Homo sapiens: one gene and its partners. The protein of the gene in region 2 purifies or fractionates together with the protein of the main gene of each other region. This does not show direct contact. Each region holds a gene or a part of one and is shown on either strand. Other genes may lie near its edges. The genes, in order: TAMM41, ALDH1L1, COQ8A, OPA3, LYRM4, ADCK2 and ECI2.

Region 1 (2,472 bases), about 110 Mb from region 2:
CTGGAAGGATGTTTTGGGGATACTAATTTTATCAAAGGTCTGAAACGTAAGATTATGGAAAGATAGAGATCTTTCACAGCCTAGCCATATTTCTACCTCACATTGTTTCCTGGAGAGTTTGTCTGTCAGTAGCCCATCTGTTTTAAGATCACACGGGGAGTTCATAGTCTTACGTGTGTATTAACTTCGCTGTAGGTCATGTGAAACAAGCTGGAAATCAGAAGAGAAACCTAAGGAGCCATATAGTGACATAGCTTTCTGCATGCTTCTAAAACAAAATCCTGACTTTAGATTCTAACCAGAATTCATAATGACTAGCTTTAGGTAAATAAGGATCTCTCTACAGGGAATGCATCTAAAGAGATGTTGCATTTTTATCCACTGGGGAAGGAGTGAGCAGAATTCCTAAATCATCATCCTTTCCTGTAGAAAGAGTAAGCTTAATGTAATCTGGGCACAGAGGCTCACACCTGTAATCCTAGCACTTTGGGAGGCTAAGGTGGGAGGATGGCTTGAGGCCAAGGGTTCAAGACCAGCCTGGGCAACAAAGCAAGACCCCATCTCTACAAAAATAAAATAAAATTAGCCGGGCGTGGTGGCATGTACCTGTAGCCCCAGCTACTCAGGAAGATGAGGAGAGAGGATCTCTTGAGCCCAGAAGATCGAGGCTCCAGTGAGCTTTGATTATGCCACTGCACTCCAACCTGGGCGACAGAGTAAAAAAAAAAAAAAAAAAATTGAAGAAAGTAAGCTTAGTGTAGACCAAGTAGAAGTCTATGGATTGTGGACTCTGTGAGGGCAGAGACCATAGCTGTTATCTGTACCAGTATCCCTAGCAACTAGTTCAGTGTCTTGCTTATACAGGTGCTCAATAAATATTTGTTCTATGTGTGACCAAATAAATGAAAGATTCTAAATTTTCTGGTAGTAGGAAATATCTCCATATAGATAGAAAAGTGCAAAAATCATAAATCTGATGAATTTCCACAAAGGGAACACCTCATAGACCTAGTGCCCAGGTAAAGAAATACAGTCATTCCAGTCCCCAGTACCCCTCATGCCCGTCACAGGCATTGCTTCTCCGAGAGTAAGCTCCAGCCTGACTCCCAGTGCCACGGTTCTGTTTTACCCATTTTTTAACCATGTATAAGCATGTCCTCTTTTGTGCCTTTCCCTGTTCATTTATAACATAGGGAGATTCATCGTGTTGGGAGTAGCAGTGGTTCATTTCTGCCCAGTGCAGTATTCTGCTGTGTGAATATACCGCAATGTATCCATTCTACTATTGATGGATACTTGGGTTGTTCCCGCTTGGGACTATTAGAAGTAGTGCTGCTGTGAATATTTTTGTACCTGTCTTTTGGTGGGTGGGTGTATGCATTCCTGTCAGGTATGTACTGAGGGGTAGAATACCTGGATGATAAAGCATGTGACTGTTCAGCTTTAGTAGAAACTGCTAAACAATCGTCCACATTTATACTTGCACTAGCAGAGCTTCTGTTGCAGCACCTCCCTGAATGCCTGTTTAGGTCTTTTTCATTTTAGGCACTCTAGTGGGTGACTAGTGGTACCATATTGATCTTTTAATTTACATTTTCCTCATGACTGAGGAAGTTGAGCATTTTTCATTTGTTTATTTGGATATGCTCTTTTGTGAAGCGTCTATTCTAGTCTTCTGCTCATTTTCCTACTGAGTTGTCTCTTTTGCTTACTGAATTCTCTCTGTAGTCGGGGCACAACTCCATTGTTGGATACATGTGATGTCAAAATCCCCCACTCCGTGGCTTGTCATTTCACTCTCTTTTTTTTTTTTTTTTTTTTTTTTTGAGATGGGGCCTTGCTCTGTGGCCAGGCTGGAGTGCAGTGGCGTGATCTCGGCTCATTGCAACCTCCGCTTCCCGGGCTCAAGCGATTCCCCTGTCCCAGCCTCCTAAGTAGCTGGGACTACAGGCACATGCCACCACGCCTGGCTAATTTTTTGTATTTTTAGTAGAGACGGGGTTTCACCATGTTGGCCAGGTTGGTCTTGATCTCCTGACCTCATGGTCTGCCCGCCTCGGCCTCCCTAAGTGTTGGGATTATGGCTGTAAGCCATGTCATTTCACTCTCTTAATGGTGTCTTTTGGTGAAAAGAAGTTCATAATTTCATGTAGTCCAGTTTATCCATTTTGTTTTCTATATGTTTAGCAGTTTTTTGTGTCCTGTTTAGAAAATTTTTGCCTATTCCAAAATCATGAAATTTAAGTTCTCCACCTCTGTTGAAATTATAATATTAAGGCAGAAAAGACTCTTCATTCTGATCTGTTGGTTCTTAGCCTTTTGCAAGTCCAGGATCCCTGTGAAAATCTGACTAGAACTCTGGACGCCCTGCACAGAAGTGCACCTACGCACACACACAGTAGATTTTCCTGCAGTGTTAGGGAGTTCACAGACACTCAGACTTAATCTGTGGACCCCTTGTTAGAGAACCCC
Region 2 (3,500 bases):
CATATGTGAGGGCTGCTTGCCCCTGCCCGAGGACAGGCTGGCAGGGACGGCCACAGGCAGAGGTGCTGTCCAGGCATGCAGCAGGAGGGAAGGAGGCCCTGGGGAGCCCTTGCTGTTTGGGCGCAGCAGGAAGAGCAGCTGCAGTGTCCACTGTCCCCTCGTCCTCCTCAGCTCCTGGCCACTGCCTTTTATTTTTCGGTTGTGTTAAACTTGTCTTCCCCACAGATTGACCAGCTCACAAAAATAGTGAACAAAGTAGAGTTGCTGGAGATTTAGTGGTACAGAGAGGGAGCTTACCTGTGCTTCCCACGGCAAGCAACTCAAATACTCCTTGAAGCTGCACTGTCCAACAAGGCAGCCACTGGTAACATGCAGCTATTAAATCAATTAAAATGAATTATACTGAAAAATTCAGTTCCTCAGTCTCAGCCACATTCTAAGTCCCCTGGCCACCGTGTTGGACCGTGCAGACTTGGAACTCATCCATCACCACAGAGGGCTCCATTGGGCAGCCCTGCCTCAGATGCTCTGACACCCGGTCACTTCCCATTCTTGGCACCTCCCGGTCTCTTCCCTCAGGCTCTTGCTCACGTGGGCCCAGACTCCTTGGCTCTCCTTCTCCCTCTCTGATTCCTTTCCCACCACCTTCCTCTTTCCTGTCACAGAGAAACAACTTCCTGCTTCATCTCAGACCTCCAAACTTCCACCTTCAAGCCCACCACGGGGCTCAGGACCCACTCTCTTTAAAGGCAGAGAAGGCTTAGACAGCAACATGGACATTTGTGTCTGTGTTATACCTGCAGGGCTTTACAGTTTATATAATCATCTAAGATATCAGAAGATGTAAGATCTATGTAATCTAAACCTTTGCCAGGTAGAGAGGACGGGTCTGTGTCCGTTGTGCAATAGAAGTTAGGTTCACGCTGACTCCCTTGTTCATATGGCAGGTGTTTCTTGGGTGACTGCTGTGTACCAGGCAAGTCTGGTCAGTCTGGGGAAGGGTCCAGGCTCAATGTGGGCCCTGGGGCTGGGAAGGAGGCAGGGTCCTATTGCTGGGGATAGCAACCCACTGGATCTCCCCAGGTGCAGGCCGTGAGGCTGATCGCTGAGGGCAAAGCCCCCAGACTCCCTCAGCCTGAGGAAGGAGCCACCTATGAGGGGATTCAGAAGAAGGAGACAGCCAAGGTGAGTGCTGGGTCCCTCCACACCCTCATCCTGCCTGTGAGCAGACTGGGGTTGTAGAGGGCAGCCTGAGGAGGCTGGGGTTCAGCCCAGATGGTGCAGGTTGTAATTCTTTGAGGCCAGAACACAGGGCAGCCCAGGTCAGGGATGCATGAAGAGAGCCGTGGAGGAGGAGGACCCTGGCACCTGGGAGGGTAGCGAACAGGGTCCATTCCAGGTTCTTTCCTGTTCCTCTTTAGGAGGAATGGGCAGACAAAGCCCACAGGGAGATAAGAGTGGGAGTTAGGGGGCAAAACGTCAGCCGTAGTGCGAGCAGTCTTCAAGGCAAGGTGTGAGGGACAGTGCGGGTCTCTGGAGCAATAGCCAGTGGAGGAGCCTCAGAAGCCTGTAGGCTGTGTCTCAGCTCAGGAGTATGGGTTGCTGTGTGGGGACCCACAGGGGCCCTGCCAGTGAAAGGTTGGGCCCTATGGGACGGGCCTGAGTACATTGTGCTGGGGCCTCTGTGTAGGGTCTGGGCCATCTTGACAGCAACAGAACATTATCTTCCCCAAACCATTCTGAAGTCTGCTCAGCCCATGAGAGACTGAGGGTCAGAGAGCACCCAGAACTAGGGGCACCAGCTCAGGGACTCCTGCAAGTGTCTAAGAGGAAGCTGGGGTTACCAGCTGTCTCACAAGAGCTTGGTCCACTGTCCAGATGTCATCAGGGTGGGAGGGGAGTGAGGAGAGACCAGCTGAGCACACACACCTTGCTCCCCACAGATCAACTGGGACCAGCCGGCAGAGGCCATTCACAACTGGATCCGCGGGAACGACAAGGTGCCGGGAGCCTGGACAGAGGCCTGTGAACAGGTGTGTCCCTGCATGGCTGGAATCCAGCCACGTGCATTGGTGTATCCCACTGGCCATTAAACTGTCACACATGTTTGAACTGGTTGGTATAATAAATAGCTACTGCCCTGGCCCCTACTCCCACTGGGTGCCCCCTAAACATCCCAGCCTTTCCCCAGGAGTGAGAGACCTACCCAGCCTGCAGTAGCTAAAGGATAGATGTCCTGCGTAGCTGGAGGCCTCCAGGCCCTTGTAGTGCCCCTGGGGCCCAGCTGTATTGGTGGTGAAATATTTTGAGTCTCACCACTGGGCTTGCGGAGACCCCAGGCCCAGTACTCACTCTGACTTGGCCTCAGGCAGGGTGGAGCAGCACATTCAGGGCCAGGCTGACCGTGGGCAGGCCAGATGCTGAAGATGGGGAGACTTGGGGGTCACAGGCTCTAGTGAGGCATCAGGGGTGGCGGGACTGTGTGTGGTGGACTTTGTGCAAACCTTGAGGGCAGTCTTGTCCCCCACACAGTCTCAGACTCTCCAGACCCCTGACCCCCAGCCGACTGCCCAGACTGTGGCCAGAAGCCTCTCTGCTGTCCTCATCAACGCAGAGCCCTTTGTACTAGCAAATGCATCTTCTGATCAAAGCAACCACTCCTTGGCAGCACCCTGAAGGCAGGTAGCCTCATTCCGTGATGCCTGGAGCACATTCTCCCCCAGTCTGTGCACCTCAGGTCTGAGGCCATGGGCCAAGGAGAAGGGTCTTATGGCAGAGTTGAGGCAGACCTGCCATCAGCTCCCTGAGGCCACTGAGGCTCCTCCAGGTCTTGTTTGTGCCCCAGGAGAAAGGGCCTCAGGGGTCACATGGGCTTTGAGCCGGCTCCCAGGTCTCAGCTACCCCTGGCCCCTCTCCCTCTCCCAGCCCTGCTCAGACCTGCCTGGGCTACTGGCTTCGGGGGCTTCTTCTCACCCACCATCTTCTGATATTTCTCCCCTTGACAGAAACTGACATTTTTCAACTCAACGCTGAACACTTCAGGCCTGGTGCCCGAGGGAGACGCTTTGCCCATCCCAGGAGCCCATCGGCCAGGGGTGGTCACCAAAGCAGGACTCATCCTCTTTGGGAATGATGACAAAATGGTAAGGGCACGGCTGTGGGTCACTTGCCTGCTCAAAGCCACCCATGCTCCTGTCCTTGGACTCAGGCCTCACAGGAAGACCCTAGGCTCCTCTGGAGAAAATGGAAAAAACCAGACCCAGGAAGGAACACTGACCCTGATTTGTCCCTGACCACCCGGCTGGTCCTGAGCACAGGGTGTCCGAGGCAGTTTACCCACTTCTCTGTTCTGGGAAAGCTGGGCTCCCTACCCTTCCTGGCTAGGCACCCATCTCCAGGCTGAGTGCCCTGTGTGGGTGTCAGGCAACCTAGAATCAGAGAGAAGCCCTCCCAGGGAGCCTGGGTTCAGGGCCTCTCTTTGGTCTATCAGAAACACCTCT
Region 3 (3,500 bases), on a different chromosome or scaffold from region 2:
GCACAGTCTCCCTGTCCCTGTCGGCAGCAGCCCTGATGATCTGGGGAGAGGCACAGGAGGGGACCGTGGGCAGCATGAAAAGCTCAGCTCCCGACATCCCAGGGAGCCAAGTGCCACACCCGAGCCCACCCCACCCTCATCCTCTCCCTGCACAGGGCCCCCGGCCAGTGCTGTGACACCACGCCTGGCAGCTGTCAGCCTAACTGCCTGCTGTCACCAGACCTGAGGGGCAGGCAGCGCAGATGGGGACACAAGGGCAGGAACCCAGTCATTCTCCCTACCCCGAGTCCCCCAGCATCCTGTCCCAGCCTCAGAAAAACATGGACCAAGGCCAGGGCCCCTCTCCAGTTACCTGAATGTAGAGGTCGGTGAAGGATCTGTCATATTCCCGCGTTGCCCCAAAATCCAAAAGAGCCACCTGGGGACAGAGACACCAGGAGAAGTTTGGCCCTGGTGCTCCATGGTGCGGGTGTGTGGGGCCGGGAAGGGGGTGCAACAGAGGGCAGTGAGGATCCCCACTCCCAGAGCCCTGAGCTCTCTGCTGACTTTCCCAGGACAAGGGGCAGTCCAGGGCCTCACGTGCCCCATTCGGAGAAGCTCTCAGGCCTGGCTGCGGGTGCCCCCACCCTGGGGCTCACCTTGTGCTGCTGGGGGTCATAGAAGAAGTTGGACCAGTTGGGGTCTGTTTGCATGAAGTGGAACTCGAACAGCTCCCTCAGGCACAGAACCAGGATGTTGTAGCAGATCTGTGGACAGCGCGAAGGGTCTGTGTCAGGCAGCACCACACTGCCTGGTGCCCTGGGAGACTGGGGCCAGAGAAGCCCCTGCCTCCTGTTTTACCCACCCTACCCTAGGGACTGTTTGATTCCCAGTGTTACTTGGGCCAGGGAAGGCAGCAGCTCCCCTGTGTCCCCCTAAGTCCCACTGGTGCTACTTCACTGCCCCTCACCCCCAGGGAGCACCTCAGGGCTCCAAGTCCCCAGCTCACACTATTAGGTCACCAAACAGCCACACAGCAGGGCCACCCTGGCCCCACCTGTCTGCTGGCACAGACAAACCTCGTTCCGAATCTCCTGGCTGAGCCCTTCGGCCTGGTCCAGGGGGAAGCCAGACACCAGCTCTGTGGTCAGCACATGTGGGCTGCAGAGCTCATCCACAATCTCAGGCACATAGAAGAAGGGGTGGCCCTTCAGCAGGTCCCTGGGTAGGGGAGGGAGGTCACGCCCTAGCCACAGGCCCTCCACACCGTCCCCCCCCCCACACACACCCCCCAACCAGGCAGAGGGCCCTCCTTCACCCCAGGCAGGATATGGCCTCGGCCCAGGCTGCAACCCCAGCCCTCTGCCCCTCAGAGCTGGAGGGGCCTTCACCAGCTGCTGAACATGGTCCCTTCTGCCTCCCTGGTGCAAACACGCAAGGGGCCCGGCCGGGGGCCACACCTGAACTTGCGGGCACAGGCGGCCTCTCGCTGGTAGTCACACTCCAGGGCCAGCTCCCGCCTCAGCACGTCGATCAGGTGCTCGGGGAACAGGCCTGGGCCAGGGAGGAGGGCATCAGCGAGGAAGGGGGCTCTGCAGGGAGGACCCCCTCTGGTCCCCAGAACCCAACACAGATGCCTGCCACCCACTCCTGCCCTTGACCCAACCACCTAGCCTCAGACCTTCTGGAAGCATGTTGCTCATGTTCAACACGGCCATGAGGTTGTTGACATCACTGTTGATGCTCTGGGCCACGCCAGGGTACTGTGGGGGTATGGGTGAGGCAGGGGAGTTAGCCCAGGGAGACGGGTGGGCCCTGCCTGGGGCACTCCCCCAACCCCCAACTGGCTTCCCAGCTGTGTCCTGGCCCCAGCCCACACCCTGGAGAACCAGAGCTAAGACCCAGCCATGCTGCCGTGACCTGGACCCCATCACAGCCTCGTTGTCCACCTACTCCTGCCTCACCTCACCCCTGGGAACAGCTCACGGCCACCCTCCCACCAGCTCTGGCCCCAAAAAGCAATCACTTGTCCCCTGTCCTTGCCCACCCCAAATCAAGCTTGCTGGGGGCCCCTCTGTGCCCCCAAAGTCACTCATTTAGCAAATACTTCCCAAGCTTCTGGTGCCGTCCAGGCACTGGGGCCAGAAGACACCACATATGGCCCTGCCAGGAGAGAGGGTGCCCTGCGGGACGTGGGGTGTAGAGGCCTCCATGAGCCAGGCCCCAGCTCTGCCCCTTGCAGCCCCCATAGGGACAGGCACTGCGCATCAGGCCGCCTACCTGGATCTTCATGGCCACCTCGCGGCCGCCCTTCATTCGGGCCAAGTGCACCTGCCCAATGGATGCGGCGGCGAAGGGCCGCTCCTCGAAGTATTCCAACTTGTCCCGCCAGTTGGGGCCCAGGTCGTTGTTGAGAGTTTTCTGAAGGGCAGGGCCAGGGAGGGGCTCTGAGCATGCCCTGCCTGGGCCACCGGGAGAAGCCCCAAGTCTGTCCCCTCCACCCAGTGGGGGCCGAGGCCACAGAGAGTGGGCAGAGCCCCTGGCTCCTCACCATCATCTGCTTCAGTGGCATGAAGTCCGCGCTCTGCCGCACCCGCTCGAAGATCTTAGCCAGGTGGGGGTTGATAAAGGCATCATCTGGAAGGCAGGAGAATGACACAGGGCGAACCTGGGGATTAAAGTGTGCGCCCAGGACCTGGGCGGGCACACTCCTGGGATGCCCTGGCCACCACACCCTCCCCACCAGGAGCACGGGTGAGGCCAGAAAGACAGGAGCCCTCGCACACACGCCCTCGGCCACTCAGCTTCCCGGGAGCCCCAGCCTCCGCCCAGTGACCTGAGAAGGTGGGCTTTTTACACTCAACATGCAGAGTTTTTCATAATTACAAAAGAAATTTGGAAAATAAAACATAGTAAAATGTTGAAATGACCTGTGTTCTGACCACCTGTAGAGAGCAATTTTTCCTCTCTGCTCTTTATTCCATGTGTTTCTTTGGACCCAGAGCCACCCGTCTGGAGACCAGGCCTATTATCTTCTAAGATCTCTCCCCAGCCTGCTCACATCTTGCCCACTGAGCTTTGGTGGGGCCACTGCTCCCGGCCCTGGAAGTTGACCCCCCCAGCAGCCCACGCAGTCCCGGGGCAGCAGCCCCCGCGCCCACTCACCCTGGATGCTCAGCATCTGGCCCAGCTTGAGTGCCGCACCACGCACCTTGCAGAGCGTGCGCACGATCCGCTCTGCATTGGCCTCGGACAGGAAAGGACTGGAACCCAGCACGGCCTTCTTCCCTGTGGGCGGGCAAGAGGGGTCACCACGGCACTCGGGGGGGTCTGGGAGTGGGATGGCAAGCCCCACCTGATACAGACGGAGGCTCAGACAATGTCCTTCCTCCCAGGCGTCCATAAAACCAGCAACATAACTAACTACTGTTCCATGTCCACCTCCCCAAGCCTGTGTGAGCCACATGCCCAGGCCCTACGCCAGCGCCTCCCAATACACACAGGCATGCACACGTACATAT
Region 4 (3,984 bases), on a different chromosome or scaffold from region 2:
TGGTCAGGCTGGTCTCGAACTCCTGACCTCATGATCCACCCACCTCGGCCTCCCAAAGTGCTGGAATTACAGACGTGAGCCACCGCGCCCCAGCCAGGAGTCTTACCATTACTCAAATCAGTCTCCCTGAGCATTCAGGGAGATTTTATTTTTATTTTATTTTATTTTTTTTTTTTGAGATGGATTTTCACTCTTTCGCCTGGGCTGGAATGAAGTGACGCGATCTTGGCTCACTGCAACCTCCATCCCCGGGTTCAAGCGATTCTCATGCTCCAGCCTCCCGAGTAGCTGGGATTATAGGCGCCCGCCACCAAGCCCGCCTAACTTTTGTATTTTTAGTAGAGACGGGGTTTGACCATGCTGGCCAGGCTGGTTGCAAACTCCTGACCTCAGGTGCTCCACCCCCCTCAGCCTTCCAAAGTGCTAGGATTACAGATGCGAGCCAATGGGCCCAGCTGGAGCAGAGTTTTTTTGTTTTTTGTTTTTGTTTTGAGACGGAGTCTCGGTCTGTCGCCCAGGCTGGAGTGTAGTGGTGCGATCTCGGTGGAGCAGAGTTTTTAAGGATAACTTGATGGGTGAGGGGAAGCCAGTGAGCCAGGAGTGCTGATTGGTCAGAGATGAAATCACAGGGAGTCGGAGCTGTCTTCTTGCGCTCAGTCAGTTCCTGGGTTGGGGGGCCACAAGATCAGATGGGCCAGTTTATTGATCTGGGTAAGGCCAGCTGATCCATCAAGTGCAGGGTCTGTGAAATATCTCAAGCACTGATCTTAGGAGCAGTTTAGGGAGGGTCAGAATCTTGTACCCTCCAGCTGCATGACTCCTAAACCATAATTTCTAATCTTGTGGCTAATGTTAGTCCTACAAAGGCAATCCAGTCGCCAGACAAGAAGGAGGTCTGCTTTGGGAAAGGGCTGTTACCATGTTTGTTTAAACTATAAACTACAAACTAAATCTCTCCCAAAGTTAGTTCAGCCTTTGCCCAGGAATGAACAAGGATAGCTTGGAGGTTAGAAGCAAGATGGAGTAAGTTAACTTAGATCTCTTTCGCTGTGTCAGTCATAATTTTGCAAAGGCGGTTTCAGTGGTTCTCTGACCCAGCCAATGATGCTAAATTCCCTTATTTTATGTCCCACGTAGCACAACACAGATCACCTTTTTTTTTTTTGGAGACGGAGTCTTGCTCCGTCACCCAGGCTGGAGTACAGTGTTACGATCTCGGCTCACTGCAAGCTCCGCCTTCCGGGTTCACGCCATTCTCCTGCCTCAGCCTCCTGAGTAGCTGGGACCACAGGCGCCCAGCCACCACGCCCGGCTAATTTTTTTGTATTTTTAGTAGAGATGGGGTTTCACCGTGTTAGCCAGGATGGTCTCCATCTTCTGACCTCGTGATCTGCCCACCTCGGCCTCCCAAAGTGCTGGGATTACAGGCGTGAGCCACCGCGCCCGGCAAGATCACCTTTTTAAAGTAGTTTATATTTTGGGTGTTTACTAAGCCCTTTATTTCTATTTATTATTTTTTGAGACAGTCTTGCTGTGTCGCCCAGGCTGGAGTGCAATGGCACAATCTAGGCTCACTGCAGCCTCCACCTACCAGGTTCAAGCGATTCCCCTGCCTCAGCCTCCCAAGTAGCTGGGATTACAGGTGTGCGCCACCACACCCAGCTAATTTTTGTATTTTTAGTACAGACCGGGTTTCACTATGTTGGCCAGGCTGGTCTCGAACTCCTGGCCTCATGTGATCCGCCCGCCTCGGCCTCCCAAAGTGCTGGTATTACAGGTGTGAGCCACCGCGCCGGACCTTACTATGCCCTTTAGATCTGAGCTCGGGCGGCCCCCTCTAGGCAGCCCTGCTGGCCTCAGGTCCCTGGGTCAGCCAGTTCCTCTGAGCTCCGGGGCTCCCACTTTCCCGACCACTCTGGGTTGACAGTGATGGATCAGGAGTATATCTCCCAGTGCTGAGCAAAAAGGCCGCATAGTCTGTCAACCGAATGAAAGGACGGCGTATGAGCGCATTAATGAGTACACAGATGAATGTCCTCTCTGGCTCAAAGTCCTTTTCCGGATTCCCAGGCCATGTCTCCAGAACCCAGACTTCACCCCCGAACCATGCCCCTAATCCAGACTTATTGACTACAGTAAAACTGAGGCACGTCGACGTCCTAAACGGAGGATATACAAGCACCTCCTAGATCAGTGGGGAAACTGAGGCACACGGTGCCGCTTTTGAAATGAAGTTGCCCAAGGACAGCCGGGCAAAGGACCCCGTCCGGTTTCTCCTCAGCCCCTCCCCTAGCTCCTCTATCCTGGAAAGCCCCGTCCAAATTTCTCCCATCTCTCACACTATTGGTTTAACAGGGCATCAGTCTCCAAGCGCTCTCTTCCTTTATCGGCTGGCATTTCCTACTCGCGTGGTGGCTCCTTGACCCGCCCCTTACGCCCCGCCCCGCCCTCACTACTGGGCCACCCGTACGCCCCTCTATCAGAAACCCCCCACTATTGGCCACTGGACTTTGCCGGTTCGGGCTGTGATTGGTCGTAGACAGAAGTCCATCCCCTAAGCAACCACCTGACAGGGGTTGGAGAAAGGAAAAAGGTTGGAGGGAATTCGGGTCAGACTCACGTTGAGCCGGCGGGAGGCAGATATAGGTCTTGAAGAACTCGCTTCGGCGGGCGGCCTCCTTAATACGGTTGGCAAGCGGCTTGCTGACCTGCCGGATGCCCAAGTATAGCAGCTTCGCCATAGGGAACGCGCCCACCACCATCTTGGCGGTCTCACAGGGCACGCGCAACCTTGCTGACTGGGCGGGGCGCCTCAACCTCTTCACTCCTCCCCCGCCCTCTCGTGGCCATGCGTGCGTCAGTACGTATGTACGTACGCTCGAGGGAAACTTCAGAGGCGCATCCTGACGTCACCCCGTCGACGCTGGCGTAGCGACGTCCGTTCGCTGAATATGCAAATATACACGGAAGTGAGGCGGGTCAGGGGGCGGTGCCGTTAAACGGATGCTGGAAGGCGTGTGGATTCCCACGCCCGCCTTGGCCAACGTCACTGTACTCCTTCGTGATGTCACGTTCCGAGTTGGCGTCCCCACCCAAAGGAGGCTCTTAATTAGTCCTAATTAGTCCTATGAGCCCCAAATACACCTTCCTCTGCAAGCTAGGGCTCTCATTGGGATTAAGAGGAAGCCGCGCGGTCATACAGACTTTGGCTGGGATCCCAGCTCTGCCATTTCCTCGCTGTGTAATATTAGATGAGTGGCATAACCTCTCTGGACTTCAGTATTACCGTCTACCAAATGGGAATCCTAATAGCAGTTGCCTCTTTGGGTTGTTGTGAGGCTTCTATGCTAATCTTGAGTGTAAAACAGTGGACCATGGGAAGTGGTTAGAATGGTGCCATTCATATAGTTAAGCGCTCAGTAAATAGCCCTTCTTACTATACAGGTCATGATTGCATTATTAATGCTAAATCCAGCCTGAGGGTGCATTTCACCCCCAGAAGCAGCGAATCCAACCCTTTCCCAAGTAACTGACAAGGAAACTGAGGCCCAGAGCAGGGCAGGGGGTGGCACAAGGTTCCTGCAGAGGTTGATAGCCTGGCATCTTGGCCAATAAAACCATACCCGTTCTCAAGCAACCCAACTTCCTTCATTAGGAGGTAGGTTCCCCAGGGAGCTAGTTCAGAAATAAATTTAAGGACATGTCCCAGACTGTCCTTTCTTACCCAGCAGGGAGTAAAATCATATAAACAATGTCAGGAAGGGGTTGAGAGAAATTCCTGGATGATGGAGTGCTGATGGGTAATTGAGAGATTCTCGGAGGCAGAGGGACAGAAGAAAACAGGAACAGAGGACTGGCCGCCATGGCTCACGCCTGTAATCCCAGCACTTTGGGAGGCTGAGGAGGGTGGATCACCTGAGGTCAGGAGTTTGAGACCAACCTGGCTAACATCGTGAAATCCCATCTCCACTAAAAAAAAAAAAA
Region 5 (3,500 bases), on a different chromosome or scaffold from region 2:
AGGAGGGAACCATTACAGCATTCATCTCGAAAGTGCATCGAAAATTTGAATCATGACTCTTGATTGCTTTAGACACATTTAATTCCAAGATCTAGAGCTGCTTTTCTTTAGGTAAGGACTTTGGAGAGCTGGGGAGACAAACAAGTATACATAGCAGAATATCCTGACCCTGGGCCTTGAGCTCAGTTGATATAAATTGTTGAGTGTTTTAAGCTATTTTCTCATTTCCTTAAACTTTGGAAGACCTTAGGTCTTTACATTCCAAACAGTACTCCTTTTTTCCTAGCTATTCTAAGCTAGTTACTAGCTTTTAGAAAAATGAGTTTAGCAATAGCTACTGTTGCCCATTTTGTTTTTCCAAGAAGCCCATGCAGCATACGAAATGAAAAATTTAAACAATAGATGATTCCTGGAGGTAAATTCATGTTATAAACCAATTTTGCCTGTGGAACAAATATTAGAATTAAATTATTTTGTCCCCTCTTTGCTGCCATCATTGCCAAAAAAGAAACTGCTTTGGAGGAGTATGTGGTTGTCAAGAAGAACAGTGATGCTGTGTTTTATAAATAGCCATTAGGCTATGCAAGAAAGTGCCAGAAATTGCTGTTAATTTACCTAGCTGCTATCTAAAATCTTGTTAGATTAGCAGCTGCACCTGAGGAGAGTCTGTATCTGATGTATTCCATTTGTAAAATCCTCCCATATCCCTTTAGAAGTGAATGAGCCCCAGTTATTTAGCAGCTGCTAGTACATGGATTCCATGCCCAATCGCTGTAGCCCTTTAGGATTGATACTGAGCGCTCAGCAGCTCCTCTGAAATACTCCAGCTGGTTCACAGAGGGTTAAGATCAAAGTCTCAGCAGTGTCTTACATTCTAAGTACCGGTTCCTAAACTCTTCCCTTCTCCTTTATGATTCCTAGTATCATAAGATTTAGTTTTACTCTTGCTTTTAAATGCAAATAGACCTGACATTTGAATTTTTTAATGTAAAATGCCTTTTTACTTTAAAAAACTTTATCTGAAACAATTTGTCCTTTTTAAGATAAAGTTTCCCAATAAGTTATATGAGCTCCCAACACCCCCTCCGCGCTGCTCCCAAGGAAATTTATATCCCCTCCTCTCATTTCTTTGCCTGTATTTCCATTCTTCTGTTGCTAAATATTACTACTGGCATCACATGGATTCTTTAACCGGTGCTCCAAGTTAAAAGCAGAGCAGTCTGTGATCATTAAGAAGACGAGAGAGCCAGGCACTGTGGTGTGTGCTTGTAATCCTAGCTCCTTGAGATGCTAAGGCAGGAGGATAGCTTGAGCCCAGGAGTTTAAGACCAGCCTGGGCAACGCAGCAAGTCCCCATCCCCCAAAATTTTTTTTAATTAGCCAGGCGTGGTGGTGGGTGCTTATAATCCTGGCCACTTTGGAGGCTGAGGCAGGAGGATCACTTGAGCCCAGGAGTTTGCAATTGCAGTGAGCTATGATCATGACACTGCCTGGGCAACAGAGGGACACCCCATCTCTAAAAAAGAAAAAAAAAACATAGAGAAAATGGTGTCTCACATGCCTGGCTCAGTCTGCTTCTCCTTAGTCTTATGCCTTTCAATCTGGAGTAGTTGGGGTAGAGCTAGAGATAGGCCATAGCCATCTGAGTATGAGGCTGTGTCTAAGGACTGCTGAGCTGTCTGTTGTGGCTAATTATCCACACCACTCTACCTTCTGTACACACACTATGGTGTGACTGTAAGGATGCAGGATGAAGGCAAGGTTATGGCATGAGGAGAGGGAACAGTAATTGCATTAAGGCATAACAAGTGTTAAGAAGAATAGCTTTCATTTATTGAGTCTTTCTATGTAACAGGCTTTGGGCCAAATTCCAGACACACATTATAAAGCCTAGTCCTCCCAGCAGCCTTTAGCAGTATTATGCCTTTTTGACAGATGAGGAGACACGGCCTTGTGTTAAGAAGCTTGCCCAAGTTCACACAAACAGTAGAAGCTGGAGCAAGGCTACAAACCCAAGCCTGTCCGATGGGCAAGCCTTGCTCTGGAACTGCTGTCCTGTACTGCAAGTGAGCTGTCTGGTTGGGGGTGGGTGGTAGGCGTGTGCACTTTCAAGATGGAGGTAAAGAAAGCGTGTTGGCCTAATTCCACAGGTTCAACTGTGGTGGGATCCTAATGTGGACAACAGAAAGGGAAGTGAGAGCCAGAATATGGGACAAGGACTGGAAAGCATAGGTCACTATCTGGGTACATGCAAATACGATCGTCATGTAACCTCTGAATTTTTTCTTCCTTTCTTTTAAGACAGGGTCTCGCATTGTCGCCCAGGCTGAAGTGCAGTAGCACCATCATGGTTCACTGCCGCTAACCTCTGAGTTCTTGATTTGTCTCTGTACACTAAAGGTTCAATTATCCATGTAAATGGAATGAAGCCAGATGTGAATAAGGCTAAAGAACCAATAATCTAAGGAACACTTCAGTAGCAGTTTGCCATTTGTATGTGACTTGTTGAGTAGATTTATTTTCCTAAATCTGTTTGCTTAGTCATCCCAGAATGGTAGTGGATCAGCCTGCGCCACGAGCAAAGATCAAAGTGGATTATCCGTAGGGGAAGATTAAACAGTTAATTCTAAAGGAAAAACTTTAAAATTCATTTGAAAGCATAGCCTCAGACACGCTGACACCTTTTCTTTTTTTTCCTCTGAATTCATTTAGAACATATGCTGTCAGGAGGATAAGAGATGCCTTCAGAGAAAATAAAAATGTAAAGGATCCTGTAGAAATTCAAACCCTAGTGAATAAAGCCAAGAGAGACCTTGGAGTAATTCGTCGACAGGTAAGATGGTTCAATGATGTACTGTTTTTCATTAAGAGCTTTAAACTTCGACATATTCCCCTTGATTAGACAGCCGTGCTTTTGGTGTTGGTGATTTACAGAGCAGGATCATGAAACTCTGTTCCTTGTACTAATACAGACATGTAAAGGTGAACTCTCATATTTTCAGATTCAAGTTGAACTTAAAATACCAGCTTTCCGGAATTTCCAGGGAGTGTATCCTTCTGGAAAGCTGATACTTTTAAGTATGAGAAACTTCTGCATTAATTTTTTTGAAAGCTAAGTTTTTGTAAGATGTATCGCACATGTGTACTTGGATATATTTCAGAGTATAAATATATTCTCCCTTTCCTAGTATTTTTAATCATAATTCAGGATAAACAGAACGTGGCCCTTTTCTTGAAGACACCATTGTGGGTGGTGAACCTGAATTACGTTGCCACATGGGAGGTGCATCTGCAGGTGCAGATGGTGTAAAGTACAGCTGCTTGGGTGCTGACCCCATAAAGGAACCTGGAGGGTGTGTTAGTTTTCGTTTTGTGGAAGTGCCAAGGATCACCTTGACTTGTGCTTCCTTTTCTCATTCTCATGAGGTGGGTGGAGCATGTGCAGCGGCATGATCTCCTGCGTGGTCTGATAACATCCGCAAGAGTAATTAGAACGTCAG
Region 6 (3,500 bases), on a different chromosome or scaffold from region 2:
ACTACAACCTCCATCTCCTGGGCTCAGGTGATCCCACCTCAGCCTCCCAGGTAGCTGGGACTAAAGGCATGCTGCCACCAAACGTGGCCAATTTTTGTATTTTTTTTTTTTTTTTTTTGTAGTGACAGGGTTTTGGCATCTTGCTCAGGCTGGTCTCAAACCCCTGGGCTCAAGCAATCTCCCCGCCTCAGCCTCCTGAAGTGCTGGGATTATAGGTGTGAGCCACTGCACCCAGCCAAAACTCTCCTATGTTTTAATCTGGGCACTGGGATGCTTTTTAAAAATTCACTAAGCATCATTTAAGATCTGAGCACTTTATATTTAAATATTATTGGAATTCAATTTTTTAAAGTTAAGGGCAAAAATCTTCAAAATGAACTTATCTGCCCTTGGATTAAAGTCCAAACTCTTTCACAGATTTACTAGACCCTTTGTGGTCAGGCCCCTCTCACCTCCTCAGCCTCCTCTCACCTCCTCAGCCTCAGCAATCACTGCCCCCTCCTTCAAACTCTCTTCCAAGCCATACTAAGTGCTTTCGTCTCTCCAAGAGCACCATGCAGTAGCTCACCCCAGGCCTCAGCAAAGGCTATTCTCTCTAGACAACTCCCTGCCACCTGTCCTTATGTAGTGACACCTAGACCTTCACACTGCAGCTGAGATGGAGCCACTTCCTGAGTGAATCCCTGGGTTAGCACAGTCTCCTCCGAAATGACCTTTTGGTACCCCGTACCTATCCCTATAAATCATTTACTTAGTCGTCACCTATCTTCCCAAGGAATAGTATGTCACGAGCATTGTAATTGTGTCTGTTTTGCTCACTGCTGTAACCCCAGCCCTTAATTCAGTGCCTGGCACCTAGCAGGTGCTCAATAAACATTTGCTGAACAAATGAGCAAAGCAGCATTTAAAATAAGATATTGTCTCAGCTGTTTGCTAAACTACAGGCAATGCTGGCAGAACTGGGTCATGGTCACCCTTCTTCTCACAGCACACAGAGCATGAGCCACTGACAAAGCACTTAAGAGGCCGGGCATGGTGGTTCATGCCTGTAATCCCAACACTTTGGGAGGCCAAGGTGGGAGGATCGCTTGATCCCAGGAGTTCAAGACTGCCCTGGACAACATAGTAAGTCCCTACAAAACAATTTTTTAAATTAGCCAGGCTTGGTGGCTCATGTTTGTAGTCCCAGCTACTCAGGAGGCTGAGGAGTGAGGAGGCAGGATCACTTGAGCCCAAGAGGTTGAGGCTGTAGTTCATGGAGATTTTGCCACTGCACTCCAACCTCGGCAACAGAGTGAGACCCTATCTTAAAAAAGGAAAAAAAAGGCCGGGTGTGGTGGTTCACACCTGTAATCCCAGCACTTTGGGAGGCCAAGGCGGGTGGATCATGAGGTCAGGAGATCGACACCATCCTGGCTAACATGATGAAACCCCATCTCTACTTAAAAAAATACAAAAAATTAGCCAGGCGTGGTGGCGGGCGCCTGTAGTCCCAGCTACTTGGGAGGCTGAGGCAGGAGAATGGCGTGAACCCAGGAGGCAGAGCTTGCAGTGAGCCGAGATCACGCCACCGCACTCCAGCCTGGGCGACAGAGCAAGACTCCATCTCAAAAAAAAAAAAATAAAAGAGCTTCACAGACACCATGGCCATTTATGGTAGCCTCCACTCTTTCTAGACCAGACTTTCTCAACCTGGCGGCTTGCTGCTTCGCTCTCCTTCCCACCCAGATAGCCAGAGTCCCAGCCCACTCCCCATCTGCAAGCTGACCACATGCTGGGCCTGAGCCCGCTCCAGCCATGAGCTCACCATCTTCAGGAGCATGTTGATCCCCAGCCGTGCAATCTTCCTTTTCAAGTCCACGGGAATTCCTGCCTGCTGGTAACTGGACACAGGCACACTCTCCTTCAGAAAGACCAGGGAGAGAACAGCTTAATCCCAGCCAGCCTGTGATGCTGGCTCCTCCTCCCACGTGGCACCACAGCGCTGTCTTCTCACTTATTGGGAAGTAACCCAAAGAGTATTTCCTTTCCTAGAACCCATCTGTCATTCAGCCATGTGCAGTGGCTCACACCTGTAATCCTAGCACCTTGGGAGGATTGCTTGAGCCCAGGGGTTCAAGACCAGCCTGGACAACATGAGGGAGAACCACCTCAACTCGGAAAGTCAAGGCTTCAGTGAGCTGAGATTGCGCCACTGCACTCTAGCCTGAGTGACAGAGACTCTGTCTCAAACAAAACAAAACAAAAATCTGTCATCCACACATTGATTTGAACTTATTTACATTCCCTTCTATAACAGCTATCAGAAGGATGACAAGTCACATAGGTTTATTGAAAAGGAAACCTATCAACTCTGCTACTGAAGATAAGAGATGTGATGTCCTGAAAAGATAGGGGTGGGCACCAGAGAGCTGGTTTCTGGGCAAGAATCAGCCAATAGGGGTCTGGGCAACGTAAGGAGACCCCCATCTCTACAAAAAAAAAAAAAAATTACCCAGGTGTGGTGGCTAACACGTATAATCCTAGCACTTTTGGAAACCAAAGCAGGAGGATCACTTGAACTTGGGAGTTTGAGACCAGCCTGGGCAACAGGGAGAAACCCAGGCTCTACAGAAAAATACAAAAATTAGTCGGACATGGGGATGGTGGCTCGTGCCTATGGTCCCAGCTACTTGGGAGGCTGAGGTGGAATGATCACTTGAGCCCAGGAGGTGGAGGCTGCAGTGAGCCGAGATCATGCCACTGTACCACAGCCTGGGCAACAGAGCAAGACCTTGTCTCAAAAAAAAAAAAATTGTCAAAACAACCCATGGAGATAGATCTTGTTATCCCTAATTAACAAATAAAAGAACCAAAGCCCAGAGAGGTTAAGCAACTTGCTCAAGTTCACACAGCTAGAAACACTGTGTGGTTCATGTCACATTCATGAGATTCCCTGAATCTCATATCACCATCTGTAAAGAGGAGGCTGGGCTGGGTGCAGTGGCTCATGCCTGTAATCCCAGCACTTTGGGAGGCCAAGGCAGGCAGATCACTTGAGGTCAGGAGTTCCAGACCAGCCTGGCCAACACGGCAAAACTCCATCTCTACTAAAAAATACAAAAATTAGCCAGGTGTGGTGGCACACACCTGTAATCGCAGCTACTTGGGAGGCTGAGGCACGAGAATCACTTGAACCTGGAAGGCGGAGGTGGCAGTGAGCTGAGATCATGCCACTGCACTCCAGCCTGGGCAACAGAGTGAGACTCTATCTCAAAAAAAAAAAAAAAAAAAAAAAAAAAAGAGAGAGAAGGCTGAACTAGAGTAGAGGATAGCTAGGGCAAGTGAGATGACACAAGGTTGTTCAGCACTTTCTCTGTGCCCAACTCCTTGTTTTGCATTCAGTGTGTCATTTACTCCTGAGACAATCCTCTAAGGCAGGTCACCAACTAATAAAATGGCAGAGCAGATTTTCAAATCTAGGGGATCGGGCCACACCCAGTGTTCTCAGCTACCTCACT
Region 7 (3,370 bases), on a different chromosome or scaffold from region 2:
GAAGGGGATTGTGACAAGACCAGAAGCTGAGCTATAGGAAAAGGCTTAGCAAATATTGCTGCAAGATCTCAAAGTGGGGCAGTGGGAATTGAGCTTGTTTTCATTGCCTATTAGGATTTTGTTAAAAACTTATATATGTATGTTTTTACTCTCATTAGGCTATCACATACCCTGAATTGAACTTGGGAAGGGGGCAGAACTGACTCTACAAGTCTTAGAGCATTTGGCTATTAGAGCATTCCTTGGCTGGGTGCAGTGGCTCACACCTGTAATCCCAGCACTTTGGGAGGCCAAGGCTGGTGGATCACTTGAGATCAGGAGTTCAAGACCAGCCGGGCCAACATAGTGAAATGCTGTCTCTACTAAAAATACAAAAATTAGCCGGGGCATGGTGGCGGGCACCTGTAATCCCAGCTACTCAAGAGGCTGAGGCAGGAGAATCATTTGAACCCAGGAGGTGGAGGTTACAGTGAGCCAAGATCGTGCCTCTGCACTCCAGCCTGGGCAGCACAGTGAGACTCTGTCTCAAAAAAAAGAAGAGCATTCCTTTTCTGGAAAAGAAATTGCAAATGGAGAGAGGATATCCACTTAATGTCCTCAGTTTTTTCGGAAGCTAACTATAAGTCTTTGCTTTCCTTTAGTCAAATAGAACTAATTTGAGTACCAATGCAGGTAAAGAAAACTCTCAGAGCCAGATCACTGGGTAGTTTCCAGAGAATGGAATTTTGAAAGTTTCTAAAGGTTGACCCAATGACCGTAATTTTTCTCTCCTTTTTTCCTCTGTAAAATAATAGTTTATAGTGTATCAAATGGAAAATCATAGCTGCTGTGGGTTATAGAATCAAGCATCTGCTTCAGATCATTTCTGCCCTGGACCCCCTGATCTTGCCCCTCCAACAACGATACACAGAAGCAGCAGCCCTTATAGACCTTCCCAGGAGCCTGTCTCAGCACACAGTTTGCAAACCGTTGCCTATTGAGGTCATCAGCTTCTCCCTTACTGAGAAATACCAGCAACCTCAAAAGACCATGAGTACATCTCTCTAAGCCTCCTGAAAGCAGTTAACTGAAGCCTTGTTTTATTAAGTTAGTATCTTAACCTTGCTTCTTGCTTTTCATTTCAGGCAACAGAGATGCTTATTTTTGGAAAGAAGTTAACAGCGGGAGAGGCATGTGCTCAAGGACTTGTTACTGAAGTTTTCCCTGATAGCACTTTTCAGAAAGAAGTCTGGACCAGGCTGAAGGCATTTGCAAAGCTTCCCCCAAATGTTAGTATTCATCTTTTACTTCTAAGAACCTTGAAAATGATTTCCTAAGGGAAAAATTTATTTGCCTTCAGAGAATAAGTCATAAAAAGCACAAGACACATCTTTAGTTACCTCTAAGCACATCTAAATTTGGAATTAAAAAATAACTGTAGTAATGTTGGAAATGCAGTACTGATTTTTACAAAACTTATCAAATAGACCTTCCATTTCTGTGTGGGGACAGAGGGCAATTCTGTATGGGGATTACTTGAGCAGGATGCTAGGCAGTATTTGCTGAGCACTTTTACTTTGGAATCCAGGTGAGAAGCATGGATTAGCTACTTTGAGAGTCTTATTGTATAGCACTTTTGTTTTTGTATGTGGTAGTGAGTGACTGATTGCTTTTATATTCTTGCTATTCAAAATGTAGTCCTGGAGCCAGAAGCTTGAGCAGCTACCTGAGGCTTTTTGGAAATGTATTATCACAGGCCTGCCCCACACCTACTGAAGCGATTTATATGCACACTGAATTTTGAGAAGCACTGTCTTATATTACACATGCAGCTTAAGATTTAACAGCATTAGGGCCGAGAACAGTGGCTCACACCTGTAGTCTCAGTACTTTGGGAGGCCAAGAAGGGCAGATCACCTGAGGTCAGGAGTTCAAGAACAGCCTGGCCAACATGGCAAAACCACATCTCTATTTAAAAAATACAAAAATTAGCCAGGCGTGGTGGTGGGCGCCTGTAATCCCAGCTACTCTGGATGCTGAGGCAGGGAGAATTGCTTGAACCCGGGAGGCAGAGGTTGCAATGAGCCAAGATTGCACCACTGCACTCCAGCCTGGGCGACAGAGTGAGACTATGTCTCAGAAAAAAAAAAAAGATTTAACAGGATTTATTAAATGAACATGGGAGAAACAAGAACCAGAATCATAGAATAATCTCACTCCTATTAGATTAACTCTTTTTTTCTTTTTGAGACAGAGTCTCACTTGTCACCCAGGCTGGAGTGCAATGGTGCGATCTCAGCTCACTGCAACCTCCGCCTCCCGGGTTCAAGCAATTCTCTTGACTCAGCCTCCTGAGTAGCTGGGATCACAGGCATGTACCACCACAACCAGCTAATTTTTGTATTTTTAGTAGAGATGGGGTTTCACCATGTTGGCCAGGCTGGTCTTGAACTCCTGACCTCAACTGATCTGCCCGCCTCGGCCTCCCCAAGTGCTGGGATTACAGGCATGAGTCCACGTCCAGCCTAGGTCAACTCTTAACCTTATTGTTGGTTTTGTTTTTCCAGGCCTTGAGAATTTCAAAAGAGGTAATCAGGAAAAGAGAGAGAGAAAAACTACACGCTGTTAATGCTGAAGAATGCAATGTCCTTCAGGGAAGATGGCTATCAGATGAATGCACAAATGCTGTGGTGAACTTCTTATCCAGAAAATCAAAACTGTGATGACCACTACAGCAGAGTAAAGCATGTCCAAGGAAGGATGTGCTGTTACCTCTGATTTCCAGTACTGGAACTAAATAAGCTTCATTGTGCCTTTTGTAGTGCTAGAATATCAATTACAATGATGATATTTCACTACAGCTCTGATGAATAAAAAGTTTTGTAAAACAAGCTTAAGAATTCACACAGGTGTTTGGTAGTAGAGAGTCTTACGTCTTTTGACATGAATCGTTGTTGCCAGGAACACTGGAACATGGTGCCTGGGGTCCTACTTTGAAAAGCACTCACAGCATTACAGGCTGAAGTCATGTCTTTGAATGCCACTATAGCACTTTGACGTCCACAAACAGTGGCTGACTGAATTGGGCCAAATGCTGACAGCCTACAGATCACTGACTTGAGGTCTTCAGTGGGTTGCATGTTCTTTTTCAGCCATGTAGCAAGGGAGCAAAATGGAAGGAATAGTATTACTAGAAAACAAATAAGAATCAAGAATAAGAATAAGAACCCAAATAAGAATCTTAGTTGGGTTTTTTTGCACAATTTAATAAAGAGGCATGAAGGGAAAACTGGGTCATTTCATTGGAAAGCAATGCTCTGTATGAGTAATTGTTTTCTTATTTGTTAGAGTCCCATTCTTGTTTAATGTGGTACTTTATGAAAGGCATCCC

Evidence for each region.
Region 1: the proteins of ALDH1L1 (region 2) and TAMM41 purify together in Homo sapiens (co-immunoprecipitation; one large-scale study listed by IntAct). This does not show direct contact.
Region 3: the proteins of ALDH1L1 (region 2) and COQ8A purify together in Homo sapiens (co-immunoprecipitation; one large-scale study listed by IntAct). This does not show direct contact.
Region 4: the proteins of ALDH1L1 (region 2) and OPA3 purify together in Homo sapiens (co-immunoprecipitation; one large-scale study listed by IntAct). This does not show direct contact.
Region 5: the proteins of ALDH1L1 (region 2) and LYRM4 purify together in Homo sapiens (co-immunoprecipitation; one large-scale study listed by IntAct). This does not show direct contact.
Region 6: the proteins of ALDH1L1 (region 2) and ADCK2 purify together in Homo sapiens (co-immunoprecipitation; one large-scale study listed by IntAct). This does not show direct contact.
Region 7: the proteins of ALDH1L1 (region 2) and ECI2 purify together in Homo sapiens (co-immunoprecipitation; one large-scale study listed by IntAct). This does not show direct contact.

What each region holds. Positions count from the first base shown.
Region 1 is NC_000003.12:11,792,414-11,794,885, reverse strand, and holds part of TAMM41 (phosphatidate cytidylyltransferase, mitochondrial isoform a precursor), read left to right. Parts: intron 1-2,472. UniProt on the Homo sapiens protein: Catalyzes the conversion of phosphatidic acid (PA) to CDP-diacylglycerol (CDP-DAG), an essential intermediate in the synthesis of phosphatidylglycerol, cardiolipin and phosphatidylinositol.
Region 2 is NC_000003.12:126,153,087-126,156,586, reverse strand, and holds part of ALDH1L1 (cytosolic 10-formyltetrahydrofolate dehydrogenase), read left to right. Parts: intron 1-1,083; coding exon 1,084-1,185; intron 1,186-1,943; coding exon 1,944-2,033; intron 2,034-3,005; coding exon 3,006-3,143; intron 3,144-3,500. UniProt on the Homo sapiens protein: Cytosolic 10-formyltetrahydrofolate dehydrogenase that catalyzes the NADP(+)-dependent conversion of 10-formyltetrahydrofolate to tetrahydrofolate and carbon dioxide.
Region 3 is NC_000001.11:226,981,794-226,985,293, reverse strand, and holds part of COQ8A (atypical kinase COQ8A, mitochondrial), read right to left. Parts: intron 3,268-3,500; coding exon 3,145-3,267; intron 2,617-3,144; coding exon 2,531-2,616; intron 2,401-2,530; coding exon 2,260-2,400; intron 1,743-2,259; coding exon 1,661-1,742; intron 1,534-1,660; coding exon 1,440-1,533; intron 1,201-1,439; coding exon 1,059-1,200; intron 747-1,058; coding exon 639-746; intron 419-638; coding exon 353-418; intron 41-352; coding exon 1-40. UniProt on the Homo sapiens protein: Atypical kinase involved in the biosynthesis of coenzyme Q, also named ubiquinone, an essential lipid-soluble electron transporter for aerobic cellular respiration.
Region 4 is NC_000019.10:45,582,003-45,585,986, forward strand, and holds the start of OPA3 (optic atrophy 3 protein), read right to left. Parts: upstream 2,801-3,984; 5' UTR 2,763-2,800; coding exon 2,621-2,762; intron 1-2,620. UniProt on the Homo sapiens protein: May play some role in mitochondrial processes.
Region 5 is NC_000006.12:5,215,951-5,219,450, reverse strand, and holds part of LYRM4 (LYR motif-containing protein 4), read left to right. Parts: intron 1-2,712; coding exon 2,713-2,833; intron 2,834-3,500.
Region 6 is NC_000007.14:140,679,445-140,682,944, reverse strand, and holds part of ADCK2 (uncharacterized aarF domain-containing protein kinase 2), read right to left. Parts: intron 1,904-3,500; coding exon 1,808-1,903; intron 1-1,807. UniProt on the Homo sapiens protein: The function of this protein is not yet clear. It is not known if it has protein kinase activity and what type of substrate it would phosphorylate (Ser, Thr or Tyr).
Region 7 is NC_000006.12:4,115,206-4,118,575, reverse strand, and holds the end of ECI2 (enoyl-CoA delta isomerase 2), read left to right. Parts: intron 1-1,124; coding exon 1,125-1,268; intron 1,269-2,546; coding exon 2,547-2,702; 3' UTR 2,703-2,870; downstream 2,871-3,370. UniProt on the Homo sapiens protein: Able to isomerize both 3-cis and 3-trans double bonds into the 2-trans form in a range of enoyl-CoA species. Has a preference for 3-trans substrates.